Linked DNA regions of Homo sapiens: all the other regions are linked to region 2. The links come from fine-mapping of genetic effects on gene expression. A gene starts in region 2. Each other region holds a variant in brackets. All regions are shown on one strand. Distances are between the middles of the regions.

The links. PIP is the estimated chance that this variant, and not a neighbour inherited with it, causes the effect. A credible set is the group of variants that fine-mapping cannot tell apart.
Region 1: its variant is the best candidate, but not a certain one, in a credible set for the expression of B3GAT1-DT in caudate (GTEx, PIP 0.83).
Region 3: its variant is the best candidate, but not a certain one, in a credible set for the expression of B3GAT1-DT in minor salivary gland (GTEx, PIP 0.51).

The regions. Positions count from the first base shown.
Region 1 is chr11:134,468,715-134,471,476 of GRCh38, forward strand. All of the region lies in intron 3 of B3GAT1-DT (B3GAT1 divergent transcript), which reads left to right. Among named protein-coding and RNA genes, the nearest start is that of B3GAT1-DT, 34 kb to the left of the region's middle. The variant C/G (reference allele first, on the strand shown) is at 1,043.
Region 2 is chr11:134,435,296-134,438,057 of GRCh38, forward strand. It overlaps B3GAT1-DT (B3GAT1 divergent transcript), which reads left to right and starts at 1,187. Exons shown (of 6, transcript NR_033852.1): 1 at 1,187-1,489.
Region 3 is chr11:134,495,839-134,498,600 of GRCh38, forward strand. The region is part of intron 5 of B3GAT1-DT (B3GAT1 divergent transcript); the gene reads left to right. Among named protein-coding and RNA genes, the nearest start is that of B3GAT1-DT, 61 kb to the left of the region's middle. The variant G/A (reference allele first, on the strand shown) is at 1,598.

The DNA of each region.
Region 1 (2,762 bases), 33 kb after region 2:
ACACGCCTTGTTCTGAGCCCAGGAAGAGCACGGTGTTGAGGTGCTGAGCACTGGGGGACAAGCTGGAGGGGGCACAGGGGCATCTGTGACCTTCTCCGGGCCTTGGGACAGATTGCTGCAGAACTAGGGCCTCCTCCATGTCTCTTTTGCGTCTTTTCTCACAGGACATCCCTCTAGGCAGGGGATTGGCAAACCAGGCCCTGCTGGCCAAAGCCAGCCTGTTGCCTTTTTGGTAAATAAAGTTTTGTTGGAATACAGCCATGTTCTTTCATTTACACATTGCCCATGGCTGCTTTTATGCTGTGATGGCAACATTGAACACCTGCAACAGAACCCGTATGGCCTGCAAAGCAAGAATGTTTACTATAAGGCTCTTTACAGAAAAAGCAGGTTGATCCTGCTCTAACCTCTGCCTGCTGCTTGCAGCAAACCTTCCTCATCTGGGCCTCAAATATTTCTGTCCTTTATTCTGGTGCTTTGAGTCTATCTGTAGCTCAGGGTAAGGTGTTGAGAATTAGTAAGATTACAAACTGCAAAAGCAAAGGTTTGGCTGTTAGAATACTTATGTTTCGATCTTGGCTTGACCTAGTCATTAGTGATTATATAATAATAATAATGCTACTAGTAATAGTAGTAAATGCAGGAATAGTTTCTATTTATCCAGCAATTATTATGTGACAAGTTTGGAGCTGGACTTTTAAAATATATTATGTCATTTAAATTCTCACAAAGAAGTCTTGGATATAGTTTTTTTTTTATCCCCATTTTGCAGATGCTAAAATTGACACCAAAAGCGTAGGTGATGAGCTTGAATCAGGTAAGAATTATATTCTACTTCCAGCTAAAGAAGAGGATATAGAAGATCAATAGCTTAAACAAAACAGAAGGTTTGTTTCTCACCCTTCCTGTAATAGAAATCTGGCAATGAGCAAACATGGTAGTATTTATATTCTGAGTTCTTGTCACATTATTTTCATTTTCAGGTCTTCTCATGGACTAAAACAGTGACAGTGAGTGCAACTCTACCTATCATGTTCATATT[C/G]TAGGTAGAAACTGGGGAAAAGAGAAAAGGCGGGAAAAAGGCGTTTCTCTACAAAGATCACACATAATCTTCTGTCTGCATCTCATTGGTCGGCATTTAGTCACATGGCCATAACTACCAGCAAGGGAAGCTGGGAAATGTAGTTTTTCAATGGCACATTGCTACCCTTAATAAAATAAGGATATGCTACCAACAAAGAATGAATATGGGAAAGGCCCCTAGCAATGTCTGCTGCATCTGCCACTGTGGTTTTCTCTGATTTCCACAGACATTGCTCTTCCACATAGAGCGCATTCTGATTCCCAAGCCACCACTCCCAAATCACACCCAGTTTCTGCATCTAGCTTGTGTGTGGGCAGTCTGCTCCATCAGTCCCAGATGTGGCTTCTCATGGCTGGTGACCTATGAACTAAAAGACAGGCCATTTTTTTCCCAACCTACCCTACCTTTTCTCCTTGAGAGGAAAGATAAAATAACCACAATTTAAAAATGTCAATCTTCCATTCAGAAAAGGGAGGAAAGAGAAACACAGAGATCACTGGTTTACAGTGATGGACCCACCCTGCTAGGCAGGAGTGAAAAGGCCTCTCCGTCCGGCAGTGGACTGGGTTCCTTGGCTGGCCCATGTGGTCCCCACCCACTGTCTCCAGGAGCATCGCCTTGAACTGTGTCTTCATGGCTTTTGGCTCCGCCTTCAGAAGGGTCCTCCCTGTCAATCATCCTCCATTGCCACCTCTGATGTGGGCACTAGGGAGCTGGTCCTTCCCAGAGGATGCATGATTTTGACACCGTGCAGTGTGGGATGTTGGACCAGGGAATCCAGCATATTTTCGGGCTTTTGTAGTCTCAGACTGGGCCTGAGATTTCTTTAGAAATATATTAACGGTTCCTTCAACACTCCAATGGGCATATAGCCTATTTACTTCTGATCATTGTAATGTGCAAATAACCACAGCCCCATTTCTTTGTGTCCAGATGCAGTTTTTAGGCTTGAATATTCATCTGTTTTACTCACTGGCCTCTGTCACTGAGTCTGTCCCCTTAGCTATTAAATTAATGGTGACTATGATAACACTTTTCACCCGATCCTTGCTAGTGCATTGACTTGCGTTGTCTGCATCGAGTTCTTAAAAGATGCTTGGTAAAGTCTTGGGTCACAGTTTTAACTTCTGCTGGGGTTCCTGCTCCACAGCCCTCATTTAGAACTGTTTCACTTTGGCTATTGTTTAGCTTTGGGCCATATTTGGCTGTTTTTTAGCTTTGTAAAAATGCTCATTTAACGGACACAAGGCCTGGGTTAGAAAATGTAGTATTTCCTTCCCCCTCTGTTTGCGTAGGAGCTAGCGCTAGTGGAAGCCCATCTCTCCCTTGCAGGATTTTGTGGAAAGTGACGAAAATAACTCAAACCACATCAGTGTTCTGCTTGATTTCCACCATTCTTGGATGCTATAACTTCAGAAAGCACATGATCTAACTTCCCAAGGGACAGCAGGGCCTCGACCAAATGCCGTTGTGCTGAGGGCTGCCGGCCGCCCCGCTAGGCTGCTGCACCCTCCCCGCGCTGCCCCACACCTTGCACAGAGCTCAGGCAGCATTCTAGCACCATCAGACAAATTCTTCATGAGTCAGAAATCGCACCTGTCTCTTAATAGCGATCTGGCCTCAGGTGGCTGAAACACACAGGGTTGAAATGCTGCGGTGCCTGCGCTCATTGTGCGGT
Region 2 (2,762 bases):
TCGGGGGAACCACTGCTGATTTCATAGGGAAGCAGCTGGGATGGGGCAGAGGAGCGAGAACTAGGATGTCCCATATACAATACAATTGCATATTGGACATACAACCCAGACAATTCCTTCTTCTATCAAATCCACCATCCTGGAGAGTAAAGCTGAAAAGCTGATGACATAAAGTCTGTCTGGGATCAGGCATGATTCTGCGTGCCCAAATGGAGCACAGATCCCTTCCTTCCCAGGGTTCCAGGCTGGCTCCTCAGCCAGGCTCATGGTGTAGGGAGCTGGTCTTTCTTGGCCCTCACTGGGACCTGGCTGTCCATGAGTGGGTGGAATTCTGAAGCCTACCTCTTCTGGATCCCTTTGGCTACATCCTTTATTCATGGGCCATGCCCTTCCTTCAAAGGCTTCAACCTCACACAGATCTGGGCTAGAACACGGGCTTGCCCCATATGTCTTGACAGCTCACCGAACCTTTCTGAGCTTTTATTCTCTTACCTATTTAATGAGAGTGGTGTGTGAGGGTCCACCAGGTAATCTGAGTGATGCCCCTCGCTGCCTCTGTCCCCTGGGGGTCATTCTGCCCAAAGGGGTGCATAGCGTCAGGACCACCAACTCCTCCCAGAGCACTGAGGTCCCTGCTGCCCAGTTAGTGGGTCCCAGGGAAGCCACGTGGCATTTGGAGTGGCATTCCAATCTTGCACTTTCAGGGCCCCCTCTGTGGTTCTGAGAGGAGGAAACAGCTCTAACCTTGGTGATCCCGACTGTGCTGGGCCCTGGGTTGTGAGGCAAATGGAGGGCAGAGGCCCTGGGGGAGGACACGTCCCTCACCACAGTCACTCCCCAGTGCAGCAGTCAGGGGATTTCCCAGGGTGCACTGGGCCAAGGGGCCAGACTCTGAAGTTCATGGGGTTAAGGTCTCCCCGCCAGCCAGGTGACGGCAGCCTCCTCGCCTTGCCCAGACAAGAAAGCCTCGATCTAATCTCACTCTGAACTTTTCCCAAGGCTTTTGCTACGCTTTGCTGTAGCTCCAAAGCCGCATTAGTGAGCACCACGCTCCTTTATAAATGGTCTGTGACCCCAGAGGTCTGCTCGCTGAGGGAGCTGTCTATTTCGGGCATTGTGGGTGGAGGGGGCATCTCAGAGGCTTCTGGAAAATTCCTGATGGGATTGTGTCTGTGTTCTGTCTCAAGCCTCCAATCAACAGATCAGACAGCTTGTACTCACAGGCCAAGGACACGTGGAAAGAGGCTCAATTTTCTAGATGGGTGGCAACAGCCATGATCTTCTGTCCTCTGGGTCCCCACAAGCCTGGATGAACTCAAGATCTGACTCAGTGGCACAGTGAGGAGACCTTTGAGGCCTCAGTGACCATCCTTGGACTTCACCTCTCACGGCTTTCAGGCAGAGAGGCCCTCCCATGCCCACAACAGGCTGAGCCCAGCCTTCCTCGGGGTTTGCTTCCAGGCCTGACTTTTACTCCCCTTTCTAAGTGGTAAGTAGCTTGGTGATGGTGGCTGAGAAAGAAACAGAGAAAAAACATACCTTACAGGCAGAACTGTCATAGTTCTCAAAAGACCAAAGTCACAAGGGCCTGTGGGTGCCTGCACGGCTGCCCAGAGGGAGGGTGACGCCAGCCACAGGCCCATTGCCTTTGTAGGCCAGGGTCCTGCAGTGCTGGCCCGCAACGCTTGATGGGAGGGGGCGGCTCTGTCTACGTGTGAAGAGCCCAGGGTGGCTGTAGCTTGCAGCGGATGGCATTCTCAGTTTGCCCGTTACTCCCCAGACAAATCTCCCTCTGGCCCCTTTTCCTTTCTGTCTTCAGTGGGGGTCGGGAGGCGGCAGCCCCAAAGACCTCTCCTTACCACCTTGTCTTTCCCATGGAGGTTCCCATGCAACACTTGTCCCTGTCCCTGAAATTTCAGACTTCTTTCCACAGCGCAAAGCCTCGGGCCTTGAGAAACTGCAGTGAGCAAGGGGAACCTCACCCCCAAGCTAAGGCAAGAATGCTGGCTCTTCCATCGCTCCTAAGTTCCAGGCTGACCTCTTCCTCCAACTCAACATATTCAAAATGAAACCCAGCGTCTTTAGCTCACCCTCCTTCCCCGCTGCCCCTGCCAGGGCCATGGCCACACTGACCCACACCCCCCGGTCACACCTCCAGGCCTGGCAGTAATATTGCCTGGACTCCTTGAGAACTGCAACCAGATTAATCGTCCCAGAGCTCCGCTTTGATAATATCACTTTTATAGACACATGAAAGGAAGCATTTAGGCAGTCAGTCATGCTAAATCTTAACCACCTTTACAGATTTTTTAGTGCAGCCCATCAAAATTGTCACCAGTCCTGAAGGTCCCACATTTATGGTGTCCATGATAACACCTCCCATGCCAGAGGCAGCAGCACTTGGAGGTGGTGCAGAGCTGGCACTGCAGGAGCTGTCCTCGCCAGGCCTGATCTCACAGCCAGGGCTGCTTCTCCTGGTTCCGCACAAAGCCCATGGTGACCTCCTGCACCTCCCACTCCAGAGGCATAACTGAGCAGTCTGTCTGGGCACCATCAGCACTCCTCTGCGAGGTGACAGATTACAGCTCTAAAGATGTTGGGCCGTTAGGCATTACCTTTCCAGTCGCTGGGTGCAAGGGGGCCTGGGAGTCCTTGGCAGGGGCTGGCATGGGCAGGCTGGTCGGGCTTCAGCAGCAGCTGTGGGCCAAACAGCATGGGAACAGTTGTACCAAGGCAGAGATTGGACTAGAGGGGAACAGGAA
Region 3 (2,762 bases), 61 kb after region 2:
CATTGATCTGTCTAATGTTGACAGTGGGGTGTTAAAGTCTCCCATTATTATTGTGTGGGAGTCTAAGTCTCTTTGTAGGTCTCTAAGAACTTGCTTTATGAATCTGGGTGCTCCTGTATCGGGTGCATATATATTTAGGATAGTTAGCTCTTCTTGTTGAATTGATCCTTTTACCATTATGTAATGGCCTTCTTTGTCTCTTTTGATCTTTGTTGGTTTAAAGTCTGCTTTATCAGAGACTAGGATTGCAACCCCTGCCTTTTTTTTGTTTTCCATTTGCTTGGAAGATCTTCCTCCATCCCTTTTATTTTGAGCCTATGTGTGTCTCCGCACATGATATGGGTCTCCTGAATACAACACACTGATGGGTCTTGACTCTTTATCCAATTTGCCAGTCTGTGTCTTTTAATTGGAGCATTTAACCCATTTACATTTAAGGTTAATATTGTTATGTGTGAATTTGATCCTGTCATTATGATGTTAGATGGTTATTTTGCTCGTTAGTTTATGCAGTTTCTTCCTAGCATCAATGGTCTTTACAATTTGGCATGTTTATGCAGTGGCTGGTACTGATTTTTCCTTTCCATGTTTAGTGCTTCCTTCAGGAGCTCTTGTAGGCAGGCCTGATGGTGACAAAATCTCTCAGCATTTGCTTGTCTGTAAAGGATTTTATTTCTCCTTCACTTATGAAGCTTAGTTTGGCTGGATATGAAATTCTGGGTTGAAAATTCTTTCTTTAAGGATGTTGAATATTGACCCCCACTCTCTTCTGGCTTGTAGAGTTTCTGCCGAGAGATCAGCTGTTAGTTTGATGGGCTTCCCTTTGTGGGTACACCCGACCTTTCTCTCTGGCTGCCCTTAACATTTTTTCCTTTATTTCAACTTTGGTGTATCTGACAATTGTGTGTCTTGGAGTTGCTCTTCTTGAGGAGTATCTTTGTGATGTTCTCTGTATTTCCTGAATTTGAATGTTGGCCTGCCTTGGTAGGTTGGGGAAGTTCTCCTGGATAATATCCTGCAGAGTGTTTTCCAACTTGGTTTCCTTCTCTCTGTCACTTTCAGGTACACCAATCAGACGTAGATTTAGTCTTTTCACATAGTCCTATATTTCTTGGAGGCTTTGTTCATTTCTTTTTCTGTTTTTTCTCTAAACTTCTCTTCTCGCTTCATTTCATTCATTTGATCTTCAATCACTGATACCCTTCCTTCTGGTTGATCGAATCGGCTACTGAAGCTTGTGCATTCATCACGTAGTTCTCGTGCCATGGTTTTCAGCTCCATCAGGTCATTTAAGGTCTTCTCTACTCTGGTTATTCTAGTTAGCCATTCGTCTAATGTTTTTTCAAGGTTTTTAACTTCTTTGCCATGGGTTCAAACTTCCTCCTTTAGCTTGGAGAAGTTTGGTCATCTGAAGCCTTCTTCTCTCAACTCGTCAAAGTCATTCTCTGTCTATCTTTGTTCTGTTGCTGGTGAGGAGCTGCATTTCTTTGGAGGGGGAGAGGAGCTCTGATTTTTAGAATTTTCAGCTTTTCTGCTTTGGTTTCTCCCCATCTTTGTGGTTTTATCAACCTTTGGTCTTTGATGATGGTGACATACC[G/A]ATGGGGTTTTGGTATGGATGTCCTTTCTGTTTGTTAGTTTTCCTTCTAGCAGTCAGGACCCTCAGCTGCAGGTCTGTTGGAGTTTGCTGGAGGTCCACTCCAGACCCTGTTTGCCTGGGTATCACCAGTGGAGTCTGCAGAACAGCAAATATTTCAGAACAGCAAATGTTGCTGCCTGATTGTTCTTCTGGAAGCTTCGTCTCAGAGGGGCACCCTGCCGTGTGATTGAAGTCCCCCATTGTTTTGTTTTGGCAGCTGATTTAGTAAACAAACAAGAATGAAGAAGGAAACCATAGCTGAGTGGCAGAGCGTGCCTGGCTGTTTACACAGGACTCCAGGGCAGGGCTCCTGGAGAGGGACGTGCCAGAGGGATGGGCCGAGGCCCAGGAGGAAGTGAACCTGCTCAGGGGCAGAAAGGAGACAAGAGAGAGGTGAGAGAGGAGGGCAAGAGCCAGGCCTTGGAGGCTGGGCCACCAGGAAATGAGTTTGCACCTTATTGGGAAGCCACTGGGAGGCTTGAAGGAGGGTAACAAACTATGATTTTAGAGACCAAAAAAAGGGTTCCTTGGTGCCTGGGTGGAGGACGGGCTTCAGAGGAAGAAACTGTGAGCTCCTGGAGTGCAGGCATGAAGGCAGGAGTGTCCTCGCTCCAGCCCTGGGCACGGGCCTAGCTCCTTGGTGCTCAGTGTGTAGTGGGGGCATGTATTAACTGGAATGGTGCTTTGCTTTTGTTCTCTGTACTTTGGGTGGTGGACAGCTTTCCTCTGTGGTGCTCTTTCTCCTTCCCTTCATTTTCCCAGGGGTCCATCCTCTGCATTTACCTGGGAGGGAGCTCTGTTACCTGGGGAGGGGCTCACAGTCCTAGGCAGAATGGGGGCTCCCAGTGCCAGCTCCTAGGGCAGGAGCGACAGCCTCAGAAGCCTCAGCACTCAGATCTGTATCACGGTCCCAACCAGAGCCTTGTTGTGTGCAGAGCCCTCCCTCTGCAGTGAAGAGCCTGAGGAAGCCATGTTCTCGCTGAAGCCGGAGTGGGCTGGCTGGGTGCCTGGCTCTGGCACTGAAGCTGCCTCTCGGCTCACCTCCCAAGCAGCAGGGCATCTTGGGGGAAGGCAGTGTCAGCCCATGGTGCTTTGCTCTGTCTCTGGCTCCTGGACTGGGCTCTGA